Homo sapiens: one gene and its partner. The protein of the gene in region 1 purifies or fractionates together with the protein of each later gene. This does not show direct contact. Each region holds a gene or a part of one and is shown on either strand. Other genes may lie near its edges.

Region 1 (12,580 bases):
TAAAGTCAGCAACTTAGATAAAATGGACAAATTCCTTAAAAGACAAAAAATACCACAGCTGACTCAAGAAGAAATGGATAACCTAAATAGCTCCATCTCTTTGAAAGAAAAGGAAACTGTAGTTAAAAGTCTTCTCATAAAGAAAGGTCCAGGCTTGGATGAATTCTACCAAACAAGGAAGAAATACTACCAATTCTATGCAAAATCCTCCAAAAAATCCAAGAGGAAAGAATACTTCCCAATTCATTCTATGAGACCAAAACCTCACAAAGAAATCACAAAACAGCTGGAAGATAAAACGAAAGAGAAGTAACAAGAATTAAATACTTCATAAATATCTTAACAAGAAATGTGCAAAACTAGCATGAAGAAAATTCTGAAACACTCCTCAAAGACATAAAAGTATTTTTAAACAAACTGAAAGATGTTCCACATTCTTGGATGGAACAATTCAACAACATAGATGTTACTATACCTCAGGTTAATATGTGGAATTGAATAATTCTGATAAAAATGCCAACAAACGCGAGAAAACCTAGCAATCTTCCTGAGCCAAAAAGCAAGGAAGACTCAAAGACAAAGAGGATATCTACAGGACACAGAAGCAGCCCAAAGCAGATCCCACCGACCAAGTAACTTCAAAAAGAAATGTCTATAACTGACTATAAATTATTAAATAAATAAATATCCAAGAGTCCAAAGTGACATTAAACAAGGGTGGGGGCGAGGAGGAAAGAAGAAGAGCTCACATTTCTTCCACCACAGGAGATGACTAGTGCCTCAGTGAAACCATGCTCCAGAGTTAAAGAAGCTAATGACTAACAGAAATGCTTGAGTTTGCAAGATGGCAGATAAGAAAAGAGGCAACTTACTAAAATAATAAAACGCCCTCCACTTGTAAGATAAAACTGGCTGAAATCAGTCGGAACCAATATGGCCAACTGGAGTTTTCACAGATGGAGTTTTCTGACATCACAGCCTGAATTCCCACCACATGTTTCATATTAACTCCTCCTGAATTTGCAAGTGACCTACGAGGGCATGAAGAGGTAACTGCGCCATGCCTGAGGACTTTCCAGACCTCCCTTTCCTTCCACCGATCACCTACTAATCCCAGAATCCACTCCCTACACCTTTTCTAATAAAATTACTGCATTAAAGCCAGCATGAGGAGACAGATTTGAGCTGGACTCCTGTCTCCTTATCAGTGGGCCAGCCATAAAAAGCTTTTCCTTTCTCAAAAACCTGCTGTCACAGTATTGGGTTCCAGCACATTAGGCAGCAAGCCCCTTGTGCTCTGTAACATCAATTTCTTCATCTGAAAATTGGCAGTTAAAAGGAAAGAATTAAGCATTTGCTCTGCCTTTATAGAAGTTCACCCAGGTGATAAGAGAAAGTTCTTTACAAAATCTCAGTTGATAAATATAGAAATAGTGACATAATTAGAAAATCAACATTTTTAAACAAAATATTTGATTTAGGCACATATCATTAATGAGTGTCAAGTCCACTAGATGAAAGACTTTGGAGGACCAGGATATTTGGAAAAGAATACTTTTAATAATGAAGATATCTAGTGGTCACCATCTTAACCAGATGATAAAACCAGGCATTACTAATAATGGGACAACCTGACATTATATACCTCTCAATATAATGCAAAATGAAGTACATAACTTCCCTTTTAAAATATTTTTACCAGAAATGTTAAACTTGAATCTAAGCAAGTCCTTACATGAAACTCCAAGTTTACAGGCTACAGTAGAATGAAACCAAAAGGAAATAATCAGATAAGTGAGAATGGGGCATTCTCCACTCCCTCGTTTTTCCTGCTTGGCGTAAGCTCCCTCCTTTCCTCTGTCTGCCCCAGCCTCTGTCCTGGCTTTGGTAGGTGTGGCAAACAGTGATGCAGTACGTAGAGGAGAAAGGCTGGTTTCTCTTTACTCTCATCCTGGAGCGGCACGGGCCCTGCTGGCAAATTTACCACATTCCTTTAAGAAAGAAGGGAAGAAGTCTGGGGAAAGCAGAGAGCATGGAAAAATAATAAGGAAGCATCAGTAGAGAAGATGAGTAGGGGCTACCCCCAGAAGGTGGCATTGAGAGTGATGGTGGTGAAGGAGACAGAGCCAGTTCTGAAGAGACTCGGTCCAGTGAGGACTTTCACAAGCCCTGGGATGACACACGGGTCTGGGAGGATACTGGTGCCAAAAGATTATAAAGTGACCAGTGAGGGCAATTCTTAACTCGGACATCAAAATTGGTTCCCTCACCTCAACCTTTAATTTCATAATGAAATAAAAACTCAATCAATTTCACCTCTCTTGGTGAAGAGATTGCGAAATGTACCACATAGGTAGAAAACCCCACCGCTGTGCAGATCAACATGGAGTTGGTAGCCGTGCAGTCCATACTCGGGGCTATCATCCAAAAAGGGGCTATGTGGAGGCAGTTCATAGGGGCTGAAAAGCAAAACAAAAGAAACATACAAATTTGTCAACACCAGGGATAAAATTCTTGGTTTGAAAATACTTTTTAAAAAATTACCATCTGTATCAAAGCACTACCTCCTACAAATGAAACTCCATAGGATTCCCTATAATCTTCAATACTGTGAACTTAAAAGACTGCTCAATGTTACTTTTACCAACTTCTATAAAAACAGGCAATGATGTGAGTTCTGTAGGCAGCCACCGCCCAGCACGGGTGCACATGTTTCTGCAGCTGATCCCAGCATGGCCACTCTATAAAAGCCACTCTGCCCTCCGTGTTGTTCTCAGTGTCCAGGGGACAAAAGTGCTCAGCAGGAAAAGGCACTGAATACCGATCTGCAGGACAAACACCCAGGCAGACCCAAAGCCAAGACAAAGTTTTATTCAACAAGAAAAACATGACTACGTAAGGTGACAAACTCAAAAATACTCAGGAGCTTCTCAGGTAATTAAAAAAAAAAAAAATGAGTAAGGGAGTCTAAGTCCACAGGAAAAGGGTGAGAGCTGTAGTGAAATGGGAAGCCTGTGCGCCACCTAAAGACGCGCAAATTCATTAAAAGACACACACTGTCCAGACCGGACAGAATCATCCGCAGGCCAGGTTCAGCCCAAGGGCCATGAGTCTACATGCCTTACAAGATGTGAAAATTCACATAAGAGCAAGAACTTGAAGGACAGTAGTGGCATCTTGAAGTAATCAAGCTATCCTACCCATACAAATAACAACCTACTAGGTACAAATTCCTTGACCCAGAATAAATAAAGCAAATATGTACTCGTGAATAATCCAATTATTTTAGCGACAGCTAATTGTGCCTGTTGGTTTGTGTTTACTGATTAAAAACAGAATATCTCTGCAGCTATTCTCAGGATATTAAGATGGCATCAACTTCTAATACTTTATATTTACTGTACAAAAATTCAACACACCCACATATAAATACATACATAGTAGCCGAGCCTAATGTGCTCCTCTCCACAAGGTGATGAAAATGAAGATTTGCCATAACAAAAGCCAGTTCTTCCTCCTTCTGAAAAGTTAATTGAGAAGAATACATATTTCAACCAAAATGCTTACATTTTTCACAAGATCATTGTGAAGATCACAGCACATTCATCTTGCAGATAGAGGCACTTTCTTACAAACATAAGATCACCACAGTGCTAATGCATTATTACTGCTAATATGTTACTACTATCTAATAAGACTTATATTTCATATTGACAGCAGGACCACAATTCACCCAAATATGCAGAGCACACAGGACCAAAAGAACTCACAGCCTAGAGCTTGTGAAATATCAAAAGATATATATGATAGTTGTGAAACTATGCAGTTAGTTCCAGGCTGTTTCAAATTCCTTTCAAAGACTTTCACAGATACCAGATTAATTCTACAAATACTGAACTTTACTGACACAATGTTCCTCTTGCAAGTAACTGCTTGATTTGGCCAACGTGGTGGGAATGATTAGATTCAACTTCTTCACTTGTCCATGAGGTTGAATAGCAGAAAATGCGACTATTTGGGGACTGACCTCCATTTCTCCCCAGATTCACAGCTGACACTGATGGGCATAGGTGACCCCCAAATGGTAAATTTGAAGGTGCCACTCTCCAGTAGCCAGGCAGAGGACAATCGAAGCCACCAGAGTGCTCACAACTCTGCAACCAACAAAGCTGGATGCATGCGAGTCACCGAATGCAGAGCAGGCAAGCTGCGGTCTCGCCCACAAGCCACCTTCACACAGAAAGGGGAGGAGGGAAAGAAAAAGTGACGGCCACAGTTGGCTAAGGAAAAGGGATGAGGATGGTGTTGTCTGAAGCTAGGGTCTTAATCCCGTCTAGTCATTGTAAACTAATGCATAACGCCAACTCAGAAACAGATTTGTGAACTACTATCTTAAAATATCAGCCAGACCTGGTGAAACGAGAAATCTTATGCAGAGAGAAAGGATAACATCGTAGACAGCTGACCCTGAAGAGCAGATTTCACTCAATGCCGCACCTACAGGATCAGAAACAGGCTTGGGAGACAAGCGTGCTGAACACATAGTAAGGGAAATGTTGTCAGAGAAAGAGCATGAAAGGAAGAGAAGAAGGAACGTGGACTGATTGGAAGTGGGAAAGCCACATGACATGAAAGGAATAACATGAAGGAAAACATGAAGGCAGGAAGAGGTTGTTGTCTATGATAGCAGAACAGCAGAACAACAGATAGCAGAGTTGTCTATCATAGCAGAACAGCACAGCAGCCTCGGTGGAACAGAGAGGGCCATGTTAGCTTGAAAAAATGAAGTTGGTGAGATGGTAAAATGGATTGCAGTTAGTGAAAAGCTTAAAGGATTTTACATTTGAAGTCATACATAATGGTAAGTAAATGTGGTATTGTGATGGGGAAATGACACAGTACATACAGGGACTCAAGTCTTACCTTCCACACTCCCACCAGGAGGCCAGGGTGCAGGCAGAAGATCCGAATGAGTCTGTCACAGCCAATCATGGTAGATATGGTCAAATGACTCAGATTGTACTTTGCAATTAAAGAATGCCATCGGAGTCTTTGAACGTTATGCCAAGGAAAGGAGAGAGAGAAGTGAGCTTTCCTGTCCATAGTGTTGTCAATTCTCTTTAGTGTATCACAAATGTGTTTGAAGAGCATGTTAATGATGTGCTCAAACTAAGTGGCATGTTGGCAGGGTGAGGACACAAATGAATAAAAGGCAAAATGGATACATTCAGATTTCCAAGCCAACTAGGTATTTCTTCCCCTCCGTCTTGCTCTTACTGTCAACTCAATGACCCAGCCGGGAGGAAGTTGAAGGACCAGGAAAGTGATGAAGTGGCAGCATTGTCTCCTGTTCTATTCCCTCCAAATCCAGCACAATACAATCTAAAGTAGACTCTCAATGTGTATTCCTAGTCAAGTGAGTAAAACAACACAGAAGCAAAGATACACTATTTCAAGTGACATAAGAACGGGTGGTCTCAGGAGATGGCTGGAAAGCAGATGGGCCTTTCACAGTTATCATCAAGGATAACTCAGAGATAGTGAAAGTTGACACATCAGAAATAAACTTAAACTAAATCACCAGTGTTTTCATAAAGGAGACACTAACACAGCATTAGACTGAAATCCCTGAGGAGCTGGGGCCACATCTCATTCAACAGTTGGTGCCCAGCACCTCAGGCACAAGCCAGCAGGCAATAGGAATTCAAAGGTACATTAAATAAATAAGTTAAAAAGGACACCAGCTGCAGTCCAGCTTCAAAGTGGAAGGGACTGTGAAGCATCAAAACCAGATCCGCAGCTGCCACATGACCCTAGTCCCATGTTCAGCTCTTCAAAATAACTTCTTGTGCAGAGAACAACAACTGGGTAAGGAGAGACGGTCGGTGAACGTGTGTGATGTAGAAATTAGAAATAAACCCAGCATATGCAGAATACACTTGGAGGAGGATAAATGCAGGGTCAGGAACCTCACTGTGGAGTCAGAGAAACCTGAGGTAAAACCTTAGCTTCAACCTACAGTGACTTTGCGACTATCACAGGCTGGTTCTTTGTGTATGAAATCACCAGCCTGCTGAGTGGGGACAAGAGCACACGGCATGGGGCAGGTGCTCAATAAATCGCAGTCCCTGCTAGTATCATTAATGTGGATAGAGGAGGCTGGGTGGGGATGTGAGAAACCTTCTTCTCTGAAAATCTGGCTGTAGAGGTACTTATTAAATAGACTCTGGGAATGTGCTGAGTCCTCATGTGCTTGGCCTTACAGCCACAGACACAGAAACTAAGGCTGACGTTTCCCCAGCAGTTCTCACAAATTTAGGGTGGGACAGCACAAGCTGCAGAGCAGAAAGTGCTGGCAAGGAAGAAAATTTGGAGTCTGACTAGAAAGGTATAAATTACAGGGAAATCCAGATTACATCAATGAGGCTTTCACTGTTGTTGAAAAACTTCTCATAGAGGAAACAAAAAAGACCCAAATAAAAATCACAAAGGCTCTTTTTGGCTGTCACACAGATGCGTACAAGGATTTATATTCCTGCACAATGAAAGCATTCACTTACAAACTTGCAATAAAAGTGCCGATCAAAACAAATCCTAAAAAACACTTTTAGTTTTGTTTATCACAGTTGATCAAAGGCTGGCTGGAGTCCATGGAAGTTTCACAGAAATAAATTACATCAAATGAATTTTCCCAATGAATTCTAGCATTGGGCACTATGTAGTATCTATTACTTCTGACCTTGATGACCATTTCAGGGAAATACTGTCTTTAACTGAGCTTTATAATTCAACATTATCCATTTAACTTAATTCTTCAGGATCATTTGAATTAATGTTAGCCAGTTTGTCCTAATATCTGTAAGTAACATTTCATGATATGCCAAGTAACATATTGTTTAGCAAAACTAGTACAGTTTGTGGACTTGTTCTCCAAACGTAATTTTGAAATGCATAAAGCCTAATTACTACATTAGAAAAAGCTGGCTTCCTTCATGATCCCGTATGAAATTTCAAAGATTTATCCAAATAAAAGTACCATTTTTTAAAAGGTAACTGTTTCCAAAGTATCTTCAGTAATATATTTAGGAAAAATAATTCATTTTTCATCATAACATTAAGAATATTTTTAGAGTACAATAAAACCTGGATTTGCCAGCACCAAGAGGTCTGAATAGTCTTACATTCAGAGCATGGGAAGAGAGCTCAGTAATCACTAAAACAATGCTCAAAGAGCAGGCGCCATGGAGAGGAGCCAAAAACAAGGTCCCCAGTTACAGAGCTGCAAAAAAAAAAAAAAGTGTCTGTATCCAGGGAAACCATGAAAGAACCCTGTCCCTCCATAGAGATGGCAGGCACTAATGTCAGATATCACAGTATCCTCCATAGCAAGGACAGACAGGAGAGAAACCAATGGGTGGAACTGCAGCACGCAAGGATGGTAAGAAAACGACATGGTAAATACTCCTGAAAAGTCAAAGAATACTGAGACAGTGAAGGAGATGGGAGGGCAGGAAACCAACGCAGGAGAAGGCAGGTATTACCTTTATATTTGCAATATATCTTATATAAAGCTATGTTAGCTTGCTCCAGAGATGAGGATGCTATGCATGCCATAATCCAGCTTTTAGGAGGAAGCAATCAATGATGAAAAAGACAGCCCGAGAGAGCTGCTCAGAAAGGCAGAATGCCAGCCTCATAGTGAGTATGGACTCAGTGCAAAGCCACCTGACAACAGAATAGTAAAGGGCTCACTAAGCATTACCCATGTGCTGCACACTTAGCTGATCTACGCATTTTATAGTGATATCTTTTGATCGATCTTATTCATTGCAGTCATATATGCTAAATACTATGCCAGTATAACGATCATTCCATTTCATAGAGGAGAGAATGGAGACACAGAAAGAGTAAGTTACTTGCACAAGATCACATATCTAGTAAGTTCAACAGAAGGCAGACAAAATAACTCATAATTATGACTTGGTTTCCTCATATTTAGACTATGATTAGTATACCATTTACTAAAGAAGGAAGATAACATATATCTTTCTGTTAAGATGGTTAAAATGAAAAACCTCAAAGGTTAGCCATCAATCATCCAGGAAATTTTGTTAACTAGAACATCATTCTTTACCATTAAAGACAACCCCAAGATACGAGGAAGTTAAATTTAGACCTAATCAGAAATGTGATAAAATGCACTCTTTTCCTCTTCTGCATTAATGCAGAATGTACATTTAATATGTGATAAAATTAAAAAACGCTGCTCTTATTTTTTAATTACAAAAGTAATGCCAACTAATATTTACATATAAGATGCTCTCACTCAACAGTTCTGCTGATTGGTACTTACCTATGTTTGGTGGGAGTTTTATACCAGTCGGTAAAAACTGGTGTCATGCCACATAAATCTAAGGTTGACAATGATGCTAGGCATGGCCATTTTTTGCCATACCATATAACAGTAACTGATGTGTCATTTATGGAAAGATCAACATGCTCCATGATATATTCTTTTCCACCTTTTTCTTTCAGTATAATTGCCCAACCTAAACCAAATATTCTGGAGAAAGAAAAAAAAACTAACAATGTTTGCCTCATTGAAAAAAAAAAAATGCTAAAGGCAATTTCATGTATCTTCTCTAAAGCATCTAGTTCCTTAAAAGCCAAAGTCAAAATTCTCAGAATGTGCCCAGTATAATTTTCACTTCAACAATAGTACTCTCTTTAGACTTTTTCTCCTCACCTAACACCCACTGAACATCCATGATTTTCCAGGTACTGGCAATATATAAATAAGACAAAGGTTCTGCCCAGAAAAGAGACCTTGAACATTCTTATTGTACTATAGCAGATAAGTAGGTTACTTCTGCTTTTCATTAAAACTTTAGGCTACTTACTAGTTATCCCTCTGTCTCCGCAAGAAATTGGTTCTAGGAACCCCATGATACCAAAATCTGTGGACGTTCAAGTCCCTTATATAAATGGCATAGTATGTGCATATAACCTATGCACCTCCTCCCGTATTCTTTAAATCATCTTGAGATTACTTATAATACCTAATACAATGTAAATGCTGTGCAAACTGTTGTTATTATGTATAATGTACTGGTTTTATTTGTATTCTTTTTTATACTGTTATTATTGTTTCAAGTTCCCCCCCACTAATATTTCTGATCTGCAGTTGGTTGAATCAGCAGATGCAGAAGGCTATGCGGAATAGGAAAATGATACATATTTTATAGATGCACAAAACACACAAAAATACTAGAGACAGTCCCACACAATCTAAACTGCACATACGTCCTACGTACACGATACTTTGAGCTGATGCCATCATTCTCTTTTGGAACACACTGCGTACCTGAGGGCCTCTTTGGTCTTAACTGGAAGGCCTGTGTAAGGGTTGACAGGTTTGAGAATGTCAGCTAGTGCGGCTTTTACAGATGCTATTTGTTTTGTGATATATTCTTTCTTCCAATAACCAGCTTCTTTATCCTGAACTGACAGAAAGCTCATAGACATAGCTATCTTCTCTACTGAATTAAATTTCCAATTTGATCTTGCAGGTGAAAAAGCAGTTGAGTAGATTCCGATCCAAATAAAACTGGAGGGAAAAGAGGAAATATGTTAACTAAGAGACACTGTCACCTACCTTAGTCATAATATATCAAATTAGAGATGCATATTTTCAAATAATCCAATTCCATGAATAAGCCAAGCTGAATATTTACAGTTGAACGTTCATCTGTTAAAGTGAATTGCAGTTTGAGATTTAGTGTTTTAAATTCAACACCACCAAAAACACATTTTAAAAAAAGGAAAAGCCCATTTCCCAGGGTCAGGTCTCAAGTGAGTAATCTCACGTTATTTAGGATCATCCAAACGACTGCCCTCTTATACCAGTAATGGAATAGGAAATATATTATTTAAACATAACAGAAAGTATATGTAGTATGATTCTTGTTTTTAAATACATACATGCTTTTAAAAAGATCAGAAAGGATGTATGTACACACACCAAGAAATTTCAATAGGGAACAATGGAATTGAACACTCTTTTTGCTATTTTTTAACTTTCAACAAGGAATACGCTTTCACAAAGAGAAAAAAAGTGAAGGTTTTTAATGGTAACAACTAAACAATAGTTAACATTAAATTTTGTCAACACTTACTATGTGTCAAGCATCGTTTAACCACTTTATGTATTATACATGACTCATTTATTCCTCAGAAAGAAACCAGGAGGTGCTGGTATTCCTGTCCCCACTGCATAGATGCTGTAACTGAGGCTCAGATGCAAGGTGAGCTGGCCCAGGTCTGTGCACTCAAGTGTATAGTGAAGCTGGGATCGGAACCAGAGCTCACACTCTTATCACCTGGGTTTCACTGCCTCTTCAATCACAAAGAAATGGGTCAAAGAAACTGAATAAGCTCCCCAAATTCAGAGAGCCAATAAGCCTCAATGTTGGAATTCAAATTCAGCTCTGACTCAAAGTCTGTTCCTTCCACTCATCTCTACTAAGAGGGCAGGAGAAGCCCCACGAGTGGTGGCAGTGAGCTGGCCTGAGAGCTCCTCCCTCTCAGCCAGTACTCTCCACCAGGAAAGAGAAGGAAGACACAGGGAAAACTGAGGCAGCGGTTAAAATCAATTCCTTATCTGAAAGGCAAACTTTGCATTTTAAACATTAATGATTTGCTCATTTAGGTCTCCACATTACTACTCAGAGCAGCATGGGATGAAGCAGTCAACGGCCTGGAGGCTGCAAGGAAAAAGCGATTCCCCCACAGAGCAGTGGTCCTGAACTGCAGCAGGACCCCTGGGGATAACTGGGTGCTCTGGGGAGGCAGAGCTATTTCCTTAACCACAGCAGAAAAGGACCATTTCTCAAACACGTGACTTTGGAACACCACCTCCTTGACTCAGACATTACATGGACTTCCCAACAAATGCAAGCTCACATACAGTCAGACCCTGGTTGAATTCTCTTCCTAGTGTGGGTTTCTCAGTCATTTCTCACTCTGCAAAATCACTTCATGCCTAGCTTTTATATTAAAGTGTTTGTGTTTTCAATTCAGAAATTTCTAGACTTTCCTATGTAAGCGGACAGATGCAATGCGATGATGAGTTGAGTACATTTAAGTAAAGCTGAAACTGTTTCACCAAAATCCTTTGAATAGACACTTTTAAAACTCCCTTTGCATAAAAGCTTGCTTGTGTTTTCTTCACATTTATTTTATTCAGCATCTCACCCTATGTAAGTATTCCTTTAGCAGGACCTTTATGGAGCCTTGAATTCCTCACATCAGCACTATCTAAACAACCTCTGATACTATTTTTACATGTGTTAGCACTTACCAACTGCAAAAACAAACACTGCCGCAGAGATGGGAATCACAGCATAAACTCCACATGCAGTGAGTAACCATAACCACAACTAACATTCGTATGATGAACTATGTTCACATACATGATCATATATTACTTACCGTAAGTGAACCTAAGTGAAAACATTTTATATTGCAGATGGTTCCCCTTGATTTTTTATAATATACAAATGTTAAGGTTCAGATACCTTTCACAGTCTCCAAACACATTTACTTCTTGATCCCCAAATGCTCCATCCTGTTAGAAGGCCTAGTCAGATTCGAGGACGAGGGCATATTTATCCAACAGAACTACCAACAGGCTCAGGGAAACTCAAACAAGTTGTTTAGAAAATGGGGCCAATTTAATGTTCAGATAAATAGTGTTTGCCAGAGTACATGGCAAATAAAACCCCCTTGTGATAAACCAGATGTCACCTCATCCACACACCCCTGTTTTTCTCACGCAGAGACAGGGCTCACACAGAAGGGAGTAGCCCCGCTGCTGGGATGGGGCACTGGGGAGCCCCCTGCCCTTCAAGTGTGCCTGCCCATAAGTCATCAGTGTAACTCACTACACTATGTGTGCTTGCCCTCTCTTCAGAAGTAACGCTTAGAATACACTGTAAACTTTTCAAAAACACATATTGATTACTTGTTCAATTATCACACATCCTTTTCTGTAGTCTGACTTCATGATCAGACGTTGACTTTAAGAGTCAGACTATGACTCTTTAGGTCCTTTAACAGGACCTAAAAAGTGCAATTCAACTTAGCACAATTAAATATGTCTTTTGAAAAAGAAAAGAAATGTGAGTGCAATTTCATCAGTAGCTCATATTTCCAAACGGCAACTTCCAAGAAAGTGAGGAGGGCACACAAATAATACTAAAAGTATGCAAAAAACATCACTAGAGCCATGCTCCAAATCTGATTCCAGGCCTGGTTTCTTCACCATGCAGGTGAAGTGGAGAGAGAAGACAGTAAAGAAACTAAGAAATATACAATGTATCAGCTTATCTGAAGAGTCTGAGTTCTACCCTTAAATAAAGTGGGAACCCTCCAGAATGCTAGTTTTAGATATTTGGTTGACTCCTTCCTTGAAAAATGCCTTGCTGTGCTTTCTTTTAGTGACCACCTTCATCTCTTATTAGATCATTGTCATAGTCTCTTTGTGTTGCTACAAAGGAATACTTGAGGCTGGGTAATCTGC
Region 2 (12,580 bases), on another chromosome or scaffold:
GATGTTTTCCAAGTAAAAAAGTATTTCCTATAAGAAAATACAGTCAAAACATTACAAAAATGTATTTTCATTCATCTTTTATTATAAAGGTATAGCTCTTATAGAAAATTAGAAATACAAATATAAAAAAAAAGCATTTTCTATTACACAAACTTTGCAAAAAAAAAAAAAAAACCCAAACCAGCTGTCCGGCAGAATATCCCACTTTTTAAAATTTCAAATACATACACACACACATACATATATATGTATCTTATATATTATTTAATTTTTTATTATTTTTTGAGACAAGATCTCACTCTGTCACCCAGGCTGGAGTGGAGTGGCATGATCACTCACTACAGACTCAACATCCTGGGCTCAAGCGATCCTCCTATCTCAGCCTCCCAAGTAGCTAAGACTACAGGCATGCACCACCATACCCAGCTAATTTTTGTATTTTTATATTATTTAAATGAAATCATCTGGGCAACAAGTTGAAGACAGGGATAATATGTTTGAAATATGAAGTTTCTAGAAATCAGACACTTTTTAAATTTTTCTGTACTATGACTAGAATAATACCATTCATTAACTAATGATAAATAAATACTATTGGATGATTATTCAGATATGGCAACTACAGATCACTTTGTCATCATGGACACATAAAATAACACCCTGGTAAATTAGTGGTCAATTGGCCTTAGAGGGACCCCAGAGTCACTTAATATCTAAGGGCTGACTTTCAGACCACAGGTGTATAAACAGCTGAACTCTACTCCACTTTTGCTTTGGAAAAGCAGAATGCTGTAATTTTTTAGACTCAAAACTTCAGGCCAGGCACAGTGGCTCACACCTGTAATCCCAGCACTTTGGGACACCAAGGCGGGTGGATCATGAGGTCAGGAGATAGAGACCAGCCTGGCCAACATGGTGAAACCCCATCTCTAATAAAAATACAAAAATTAGCTGGGCATGGTGGCATGCACCTGTAGTCCCAGCTACTTGGGAGGCTGAGGCAAGAGAATAGCTTGAACCCGGGAGGCGGAGGTTGCAGTGAGCCAAGATTGCACTACTGCACTCCAGCTTGGTGACAGAGTGAGACTGTCTCAAAAAAAAAAAAAACAACTCTTCAGCCACAGATCTGATAGGTGATGCTACTACTACAACTCTTTTCTAAGGAATTTGAACTATCAAAAACTACAAAAACTCAATTTCTACAATGATGTTGATGATACAATAGAGGTAGCAGGTAACATTTCCTGACACTTACTATTTGCAAGGTACTGTTTTAAGTGCTTTTCACATAAGTTACCTCATCAACTCTCTTATCAACCCTAGGTATAGGCACTGTTACCTATATGCAGGTAATAGATAAAGACCTTGAGCCTTAAAAAATGTAAGTAACTTTCACATGGACCCTCAAGCAAGCACTGCAGCCAGAATTTGAATCCAGATCTGACTCCAGAGTCAGAACTCTGAATACCATGGTTCTTCTATATCGTATCTGCTACTTGCAATGGGGAAGATTTAGCCATAGCTTCTCTTCCTACAGACTGATGATCTTCAAAATCCCCCAAATTAAAAATATTATTTTGGATATGTGCAAGCAGTATGTTAAAACAGGTAATCAAGTCTATGAGAGCTGTAAGTGCCTACTGTTGAGAAGAAAAAACTACAATGAAAAGGATATTTTAAATATTTTTGTATGCTGCTGACATAACAAGAATACTCACTGTGATAAACCAATAGGAATTGACTCTATAAACCAACTTGGATAAGAAGCCAAGCTGATCCACTGGTGCCAGAACATGAAGGTGCAAGTGGGAAATGGAACAGAATGGTGGCATATGAAAACCCATCCTAAAATAGAAAGTAAAGAGATGATTGACAAACCAGTTCTAAAATAAAGTCATTTTTCAGGTGAAAACACATAAATTTTAATGAGATCCAAAATAAGTACCTAAGGTAAATAGACTGTCACAAATCTCATTAATGTTTCTCTTTATGCACTTCAGAGGATTCACACACTTCCTCTTCTTTTCATGTTGAAGTTCGTAGTAACATAAGCTCATCATCAAGGAAGGCCTTAACAGCATATTACGCCTCAATATAATCTTTATGAATTCTGAGTTGGCATAATGTCTTATCACTTCAGTCTTTATCATCGTAAGCTTTCATTCTCTTAAAATATGCTCTTGCAATGAATTTTTAAAAACATCACTGGACACTCAAGTAGTCGTGTTCCTTTATTCAATACATAGCCAGTAGATGGCACACTTTTTCCTTTAATAAAGTACTCAGACATTTCCCACCAAACCAACAATATTTCAGTAGTGAGATTAATTATGTCATCATAAAAAACTTTCGTCATCACCCAGGTTTCTTGTTTAATACTTAAAATAAGTTAGATGATAATGATAATTATGTGCTTCCTAAAAGATACACAAGAATTCCTTTAAATGGTTACAAAGTTTTTAAAATATGATTTAAACTCTTAAAAATAAGCTTACAAAAATTTTTGCAAGTCCACCTATGCTCAGCAGAGCAACACACACCTGTAACAATAATCAAAGCCTAGAAATATTTGCCTGTTCAAGGTATCAGTGAGTGGAAGTGTGGAAAGGAGGCATAGAAGTGCTATACTGCAGCAGTGATCCTCTGGGACTAGCAATGTGGAGTCAGATATGCAGTACATACTTTAAAATTTCCACCACCACCTAGAAGAGGAGACTAGGTTTTCCTTCTGCCAAACAGTCATATAATGTAGAATCAAATAATCTAGAAGCTTGAAGCAACTCAAAGGTTCACTCAATCTTTTCATCTTAAAGATGGAGAAGCCATGATCCAGAAAGTTTAAAATATTCCCAAGGTCCCAAAGTTAGACAGTCGTGGAGCTGGAGTTGAGACTCAGGGCTCTCAATTCTTTGTCCAGTGTTCATTCTTCTAATAAGTATCCTATGACTGTGAAGGAAATGTGTGGCTTCTGGCCAAAGGGTCTCAAACACCATTTGTTCCTTGTCATTATCACACTTGGTAATACTTAACAGTTTTTGGAGGATTTTTCACACAGAGAATCTCATTTGCACCTACCAGCAGGCAGAGCAGGTATTATCTTGGAGAGGCTAAATGGCATGTCTAAACTAATACAGACAGTGTACGTAGAGTACACCACAAGTAGCATGGATGGCATTAGAATTCAAGTCTATTCTGAATTCTAGGTCAAAAGTGTTAGAAGTAATCTCCATTATACCTGCTTGGGTCACAGAAGCAAAATTGGAAACCTTTTAAAAAGAAAAACATTACTTAGACAAATTAAAACATTTGAAAAGGCCCGGCGCAGTGGCTCACGCCTGTAATCCCAGCATTTTGAGAGGCCAAGGCGGGCGGATCACTTGATGTCAGGAGTTCGAGACCAGCCTGGCCAACATAGCAAAACCCTGTCTCTACTATAAGAAATACAAAAGCTAGCCAGGCATGGTGGCATGCACACACAATCCCAGCTACGTGGAAGGCTGAGGCAGGAGAATCACTTGAACTCCGGAGGCAGAGGTTGCAGTGAGCCAAGATCGCACCACTGCACTCCAGCCTGGGGGACAGTGCAAGACTCCGTCTCAAAAAAAAAAAAAAAAAAAAAAAAAAAAGTTGAAAAATTGAACATCATGTGCTTACGCCAGAGTTCAGCAGACAACAAATTCAAGTTAATTTCACGTTAGAATTATAATCATGTGTTTTTAAATCATATAAAATTTTTCTAAGAAAATTCAACTTGCATACAGTTTTATAGGAATGCCCATATTGAACAAAGAAAAGTAGATTTGCTGGGTGTGGTGACTCACACCTGTAATCCCAGAACTTGTGTGAGGCTGAGGCAGGAGAATCACTTGAGCCCAGGAGTTTGAGACAAGCCTGGGCAACATAGGGAGACCCTGTCTCTACCTAAAAAATTTTAAAATTAGCCGGGTGTGGCAGTACTTGCCTGTGGTCCCAGCTACTCTGGAGGCTGAGGTAGAAGGATACTCAGTCTGGGAGGTTGAGGCTGCAATGAGCCATGATCACACCACTGCACTCTAGCCTGGGCAACACAGTGAGATCCTATCTCAAAAATTTTTTTTTAAAAAGTAGACTTGTAACTATTTTACCTACCCACTGCCCATATAGACTTGTCTGTCCAAACTTCAAGTGGAAATTATTGGAAGATATTGAGACACAAGAGGAAGTTTTATTACATTTATACTACCAATGAACTATATTCTCACTTTCAGGAAAACTACATTTAAACCACAAACTGCCACCTCTGTTTCCATTTTCCATGGAGAAATGACATTTTGAAAAACGTCAATAATGTATAATATTGGTTTCCATCTGGAAGTATACACACCTCACATTCGTGAAGTCAGTGAAATTATTTCTTTCAAGAATGGTTTTTCCAACAGTTACCATGTTCTCAACTGTAAAACAGAAAAGACACAACATTACACTAGAGGAGACATTAAGGTCACAAATTGCCATTGATCTTCACTCTTGTCCTATCAAATGGGTAAACATTTAAAGACACATTCAGGCCAGGCACAGTGGCTCACCCCTGTAATCCCAACACTTTGGGAGGAGGATCACTTGAGCCTAGGAGTTTGAGACCAGCCTGGGCAAAAAGGTAAGACCTCGTCTCTAAAAAACATTTTTTAAAAAGTAGCTGGGTGGCCAGGCGCAGTGGCTCATGCCTGTAATCCCAGCACTTTGGGAGGCCGAGGCAGGCGGATCACGAGGTCAGGAGATCGAGACCATCCTGGCCAACATGGTGAAACCCCCATCTCAACTAAAATACAAAAAAAATTAGCCGGGCGTGGTGGTGCACACCTGTAGTCCCAGCTACTCGGGAGGCTGAGGCAAGAGAATCACTTGAACCTGGGAGGCAGAGATTGCAGTGAGCCGAGATTGAGCCACTGCACTCCAGCCTGGTGACAGAGCAAGAGTCTGTCTCAAAAAAAAAAAAAAAAAAAAAAAAAAGGTAGCCAGGCATGGTGGTGCACACCTATAGTCCTAGCTACTCGATACGTGGAGGCAGAAGGATTTCTTGAGCCCAGGAGGTCGAGGCTGCAGTGAGCTATGATTGTGCCACTGCACTCAGGTCTAGGTAACAGAGTGAGACCCTCTCTCAAAAATAAATAAATAAAATAAAAAATAAAGACATTCAGTAGCTTTAAGTCACTGAGAAGTTTGCTTATCAACAACTGAAATAAAGTTTCAAATTGAGCCTCAGTGCAACATCACTATCACAAAATCTCACAGATAAGTAGACTTTAGGACAGCTGGCTATTTAGGACATCTGATCATATGAGGACTAACTCTCATCAAGAAGACCAAGTAATTAAACAGAAATTGTTTGATTTAATAAGACAAGAAAACTTTGAATTTGTCTTTGAGCCCAAATTAAGGATATGGTATCCCTTCCAGTCAGCCTATCCTTGACTAGCCAAAAATTTGTATAATGACTCTGGCTTCCAAATTCCATCTCCTTTATCATCTTTCTTCTCTTGGTGTTTTATGGCCTTCAGGTGGGAATAAACCTGTCCACCAAAAAAATTTTGGTCACCTGGGATCTTCAAAGCACCATGCCAAATGTTAGGCCTCCATAGTTTCTAAATGGTGTAATCATGTATTTGAAAGACGAAGAAGTAAAAACATCTACAGAGGATAGCTGATATATTGAGACTTACAAAATCATTGTTAATGTTTACTTCTTTAAGTCAGGTTTGAGCTGGGAGACTGCCAGCCTTCCAAGACTAGGTCAGTACCATAGAGTCCAAAAAAAAGCTCCAAATTACTTCAAGCCAGACTATATCTTTTTTTGGAATTTTTTCTTTTTCTAATTTAATTATACTGTCTTTAGAGAACATATTTATAAGATTTCAATCATTTGATATGTATTGAGCTGTATTTTATTGCTCGGAATATGGTCAACTTTGGTGAACATATGCTTTTTAAAAAACATGTATGCTGTATTTAAGTGGAGTTCTGTAAATGTCAATTATAGTCATATTCCTTGATAGTGTTCTTGAACTCTTCCATATGCTTATTATTTCCTCAACTTTATCAATTATATAAAAATTATTAATTTGCAACAACTTTTAGTATGGAAATATTCAAATATAACACAAAAGCAAAGAGGAAAATGTAATGGAATCCCAAATACCTACCAGCTGCTTCAAAATTAGCAATATTTGATTTGCAACATTATAAAAACTAGTTATAACAGCCTCTATTCTCCACTTCTGCTGAATATAAATTGAAAAATTCCTAAAAAGCTAAAGTGTGAAACCCAAGAAATAACTACAAGAATGAAAATAAAAACTTTTAATAAGAAAGATGAAATGTTTCAATCAGGTAAATCTAAATTGGATCTAATTGTTATAAGCTCAAATGTACAGTACAGGGTACTGTAGTTATAAATCATATATGTTCTCAAATGTACTGATAGAACTTCAAATGACTAAGGAACTTAGCTGTATTCAGAATCGACAGTTTAAAAATTGTTAGTTAATTCACTAGCCTAAATATTAATGAACTACACATCAAGGTTTTCCATTAAAGTGGTTTCTTACCTCTTAAAAATCTAGCCCAATTGATCTATCATGTAGGCTACCTTAAAATATTGATCAAACTAATCCCAGAACCTCATGACAAAGCCTTTCCAGATTTCAGAAGTCCTAGCCAGAGCAATCAGGCAAGAGAAAGAAATAAAAGGCATCCAAATAGGAAAAGGAGTCAAACTATCTCTCTTCACCAACAATCTGAGTCCATACCTAGAAAACCCTGAAGACTCCACCAACAGGATCCTGGAACTGATAAACTACTTTAGTAAAGTTTCGGGATACAAATTCAATGTACAAAAATCAGTAGCATTTCCAAACACAACACTCAAACTGACAGTCTAAATCAAGAACACAATCCCATTTACAATAGCCACACACACACAAAAATACGTAGGAATACAGCTAGTCAAGGAGGTGAAAGATCTCTACGAGGAGAACTATAAAATGCTGCTGAAAGAAATCATAGATGATACAAACAAATGAAAAAACATTCTATGCTCGTGGACTGGAAGAATCAATATTGTTAAAAAGGCCATACTGCCCAAAGTAATCTATGGATTCAACACTACCAACATCATTTTTCACACAACTAGAGAAAACTATCCTAAAATTCATATGAAACCAAAAAACCCAAGTAGCCAAGACAATCCTAAGCAAAAAGAACAATGCTAGAGGCATCACGTTACCCAACTTCAAACTATACTATAAGTCTATATAACCAAAACAGCATGATAGTGGTACAAAAACAGACACACAGACCAACAGAACATAACAGAAAACCCAGAAATAAAGCCACATACCTGCAGCCATCTGATCTTCAACAAAGTTGACAAATATAAGAAATGGGAAAATACGCCATATTCAGTTAAATGGTGTTGAGATAGCTGGTTATCTATATGGAGAAGAATAAAACTGGACCCCTACCTTTCACCATATACAAATATTAACACAAGATGGATTAAAGATTTAAATGTAGGACCTCAAACTATAAGAATCCTAGAGGAAACCCTAGGAAACACCATTCTGGACATCAGCCTTGGGAAACAATTTATGACTAAGTCCTCAAGAGCAACGCAATAAAAACACAAATTGACAAGTAGGACCAAATTAAAGAGCCTCTGCACAGCAAAAGAAACTATCAACAGAGTAAATGGATAACCTACAGAATGGGAAAAAGTATTTGCAAACTATGCATCTGACAAAGGTGCAATATCCCGGATCTGTAAATAAATTATTAAACAATTAAACAACCAAAAATCACCATGAAACAATGGGCAAAAGACATAAACGGACACTTCTCAAAAGAAGACATACAAGAGGACAAAAAAATATGAAAAAAATGCTCCACATCACTAATCATCAGGAAATGCAAATCAAACCCACAATAAGATACTATTTCAACACCAATCAGAATGGCTATTTTTAAAAAGTAAAAAAATAACAGATGCTGGTAAGGCAGAAGAGAAAACATAACACTTACATGCTGTTGATGAGAATGTAAATTAGTTCAGCCACTGTGGAAAGCAGTTTGGAGATTTCTCAAAAAAATTAAAATAGAACTACCATTCGACCCAGCAATCCCATTACTGAGTATATATCCAAAAGAAAACAAATTATCCTACCAAAAAGACACATGCACTTGTATGTGAGTCACAGCACTATTCACAACAGCAAAGGCATGGAATCAACCTAGGTGCCCATCAGCAGTAGACTAGATAAAGAAGATGTGGTACATATATACCATGTAATACTATGCAGCTATAAAAAAGAATGAAGTCATCTCCTTTGCAGCAGCATGGATGCAGCTGGTGGCGATTATTCTAAATGAATTACACAGGAACAGAAAACCAAACACTCTGTGTTCCCACTTATAAGGAGAGGGTAAACACTGGGTACTCATGGACAAAAAGATGGCAACAATAGACACTGGGGACAACTAAAAGTGGGAGAGAGAAATGGGGGCAAGAGGTGAAAACCTAACTGTTGGGTACTATGCTCACTACCTGGGTCACAGATCATTTGTATCCCAAACCTCAGCACCACACAATATACCCACGTAATAAACCTGCTCATGTACCATCAAATCTAAAATAAAAGTTTTATCTAAATCTTCAAATCTAAACCGTCAAATCTAAAATAAAAAATTATCTTTTTTAAAGGCAGATTTGAAGTAAGCTTAGAAATGTCTTAGAAAATGATAGGTGACAAGCCACAGAAGGCATGAGTAGGAAAATGAGCAATCATCCTTAATAGACAAGATTCAGAATCTCCTTTTCAGAAGCTAGAAGTTCATCACTAAAAACTCATAATTAAATTTTGGTGCTAATTCATCTTCACAGGATACTATAAGGCAGGTACCAACATGATCTCACCATAAGGCAATATGAGCTCATTTGTCATATCGTAACTTGTTTGTTTATAATTTTTCATAGCACCTTTCATTTCAGAGTCAAGAAAGTCCATCATTTAAAAAGTCATAGAAATAGGCCAGGCACGGTGGCTCACACCTGTAATCCCAGCACTTTGGGAGGCCTAGGTGGGTGGATCACCTGAGGTCAGGAGTTCAAGACCAGCCTGGCCAACATGGTGAAACTCCGTCTCTACTAAAAATACAAAAATTAGCCAGACATTGTGGCGCATGCCTGTAAACCCAGCTACTTGGAAGGCTGAGGCAGGAGAATTACTTGAACCTAGGAGGCAGAGGCCGCAGTGAGCCGAGATTGCACCACCGCACTCCAGCCTGGGTGACTGAACAAGATTCTGTCTCAAAAAAAAAAAAAAAAAAAAAAAGTCATAAAAATATATTATCTTTTGGACAGTTTAAATGTTAAATAGCATGATGTCTGGTTTATGCTTCACAATCACTGTGGGAAAAGGTTAATGTATTTTTTAAAATTGTCCATGAGTTCCTAAATGTGGAGGCTGCATAATGAATACACGAGTATTATACTATTTTTTAATGAATTTAAAATTCTTTATAGTGAAAATTTCAAAAAGTCATAATGCTCCTTTTTCACAGTACTTAACTAGACTTTTTCTTTTTAATCTTCACTGCCATCACTGATACCAACTGAAAATGATATAAACATGAAGAATACTGCCATCATCTTACCCAGTTCTACTTGATCTTTCCTTAGAGTTCTGCAGTTTCCAATATGCTTCTTTGGCACCACAAGATAATGATGAGTTGCTGCTGGTTTGATATCTTTGAAGCAAATTAGGTCCTCATTCTAAAGGAAAAAACATTTGTTAGTGAATTTTTAAAAAGAATTTCTTAATGCTGTTCTGGCATGACTTAAATATCATTAATCTCAGTCTGACAGGGAAATGATACTTATGTTACACCTAACCCCCACTGGGCAATTTTATAATTACGCATTAAGTTCATAACACTTCCTTCATGAGATGCTTATTGATTCCAGAGAATAAAAAAGACACATAAAATCAATTTTGGGGAAACAATTATGAGTAAAGTTCACTAAAATTTCATTACCAATAATCTCAGAGTTTATTATTTCATTACACATTTCTCTATCCCTACCCTAAAGTTTTTTACCTTGACACATATTTTTAAAGGTTTGGCTACAGAATCACAACAAGATAGATAAATTCCTTTCTACATTTAATTTTTTTCCCAACGTAGCATTTTCCTCAATTATAAAAAGAACACCAGCTAGCATTTACATGTCCAGGGATTGCATTTTTTAAACACTTTTTAAAGCAATTATATCCAAAGACTTTTTTACTTGCCACTTTACAGTATTAAAAAGACTGAAATGCTGAAACAAATTCCAGTATATTGTACTAATTTATGGGACCACTACACTACATGTATGGCATCAGTTTTCTGGTTTACATTACCCCACACAGTAATCTACAGAAAAAAGAAAAGGAAAGGAAGAGCGTGTTTCAACCTATTAACATTTGAATTTCGAACTTTCCTAAAAGAAAATTTATATTCACTAAATAACCATATTAAATATCTGATAGTGAATATCTTATTCAGTATCTTATACTGATTTTAATTTTTACTTTACATTAAATAAAAATTAATTAAAATCAGTGTAAGCAGAGTTTCCCTTAGAAAAAATCCATGAATGCAATGCTGCTCAATAGTTCTCTGTTCCAAGAGCCAAAATTCAATTCAAACAAGTGCGTCATATCCATTCCAGTAATCCTGGTTATCCTAAGATAACAAACATGATAATTATATATCAATTTTAATCCATTTCTATCATTTTTATTATGGTTTTTCTGTCTAGTATTAAAATTAAAAATTGATATCCATGGAATGTTTTAGAAAAGGATAAGGTCAAGGACTACACTGTTTTTTATTGTTTAAAATTTTCCTTTTTTCCTTTCTTTCAGACAGGGTCTCTCTCTGTAGCCCAGGCTGGAATGCAGTGGCACAATAATGGCTCACTGCAGCCTCGATCTCCTGAGCTCAGTTGATCCTCCCACCTCAGCCTCCCAAGTAGCTGGGATGCACATCACCATGCCAGGCTATATATATATATTTGTAGAGATGGAGTCTCCCTATGTTATCCAGGCAGGTCTCAAACTCCTGGACTCAAGCGATCCTCCTGCCTCAGTCTCCCAAAGTGCTGGGATTACCATTATTTCTTTAATACTTCCAGCTCAGAAACAATTAAAATTGGGGGTTAAATCTAGTACAAGAAAATTGCCACAATCCTACTTCCCAGATTGATTCATAACACAATAATGTTATATATCTTTATTTCCCCTCAATTACGGCATTAATTTTTTAAAATCCAGAGGTAATTCTGGTACAGAATACAACCTGGTTAGTTTGAGATGATGTAGCTGTACTCTACCTCACAGCAGGAATGACACTTCTTTAGATTAACAGAACTAGCAAGTGCCAGTCTAATGGCTAGCAGGAGAAAAGCTAAAGCGGTTCCTAAAAATCTGCTGTCTCATACTGCATAACTTAGCGATAAGAATGAACCAAAATGCTTAGTTTTGTCTTCCAACCTCTATATTGAAAGGTTTTGGTTACTAACTCTCATATATCAATAATTTATTTTCCCAATCTTAATTAATTACACAATCCCAATCCTAATAAAAACTACCAATCAACATGACTCTTATCACCAGGAATAGATAAAATTCCTCTCAAAAATATAGAAACTTGATGTTTTAGTTAGCCTACACCCTGACTAAATTAGATTTCCATGAAGCTTTCTGAAATATTGAAACTAGCTCTGATGTCACCCTTTGTCCCATTCCTACTGCTGATCCAGGCATCATTTACATGGTTCATCTTAAGAAAAATGATCCTCCTATTCCATAGATACGCTGGCAAAAATATGAAATGATTGTGTGTGTGTGTGTGTGTGTGTGTGTGTGTGTGTGTGTATAAAACTATTCTTTGCAGCATTATTCATGATAGCAAAAGACTGAAAAATAAACCAAACATTCATAATGCAGCTGGGCGACTGGTTTAATAAATTATGGCAAATCCACACAATGGAGTATTGTGTGGCTCTAAAAAGGAATGAGGAAGATCTTCATATACATACGAAATTATTTCTAAGATATATTCAAGTTTTTTTAAAAAACAGCAAGGAGCAGGAGAGTGGTTAAGCTATCTTTTGTGTGTAAGAAAGAAGAATACAAATACAGACATGTGAATACCTATTTACTCACAATGGAAGGATAAACAAAAAAGTTTTTAAAAGTTTCTTATGGAGAAAGAGACATGGTAGAGATGACAAGAGAATGGATGCTAGATTTCTCCAAATGTACCTTGCTTTACAATTTTGACTCTGAAAACATGTAAATATTTAACATGTATACATCACACTTCACAAGAAAAAAAAGCAATCCCTAAAAATAAAAAACAAACAATAAACCTAACTGGATGTCATGTTGGTAGCATAATCATTCCATTCAAAGAAGAGAATGATTTCAAGTGACTTAAAGATACAGTATTTTGCCTATCCATCCCTAATGACATCCACTAAAGAGCATTTTCATTCCTG

Evidence for each region.
Region 2: the proteins of FBXO15 (region 1) and HINT3 purify together in Homo sapiens (affinity purification with mass spectrometry; 3 studies listed by BioGRID and IntAct, with this or other methods). This does not show direct contact.

The regions. Positions count from the first base shown.
Region 1 is NC_000018.10:74,121,052-74,133,631, forward strand, and holds part of FBXO15 (F-box only protein 15), read right to left. Parts: intron 9,608-12,580; coding exon 9,365-9,607; intron 8,564-9,364; coding exon 8,354-8,563; intron 7,726-8,353; coding exon of another isoform or gene 7,602-7,725; exon of another isoform or gene 5,058-7,601; intron 5,051-5,057; coding exon 4,924-5,050; intron 3,521-4,923; coding exon 3,438-3,520; intron 2,460-3,437; coding exon 2,317-2,459; intron 1,969-2,316; coding exon of another isoform or gene 1,787-1,968; exon of another isoform or gene 1,541-1,786; intron 1-1,540. UniProt on the Homo sapiens protein: Substrate-recognition component of the SCF (SKP1-CUL1-F-box protein)-type E3 ubiquitin ligase complex.
Region 2 is NC_000006.12:125,964,112-125,976,691, reverse strand, and holds part of HINT3 (adenosine 5'-monophosphoramidase HINT3), read right to left. Parts: intron 9,806-12,580; coding exon 9,688-9,805; intron 4,434-9,687; coding exon 4,364-4,433; intron 1,846-4,363; coding exon 1,719-1,845; intron 1-1,718. UniProt on the Homo sapiens protein: Exhibits adenosine 5'-monophosphoramidase activity, hydrolyzing purine nucleotide phosphoramidates with a single phosphate group such as adenosine 5'monophosphoramidate (AMP-NH2) to yield AMP and NH2.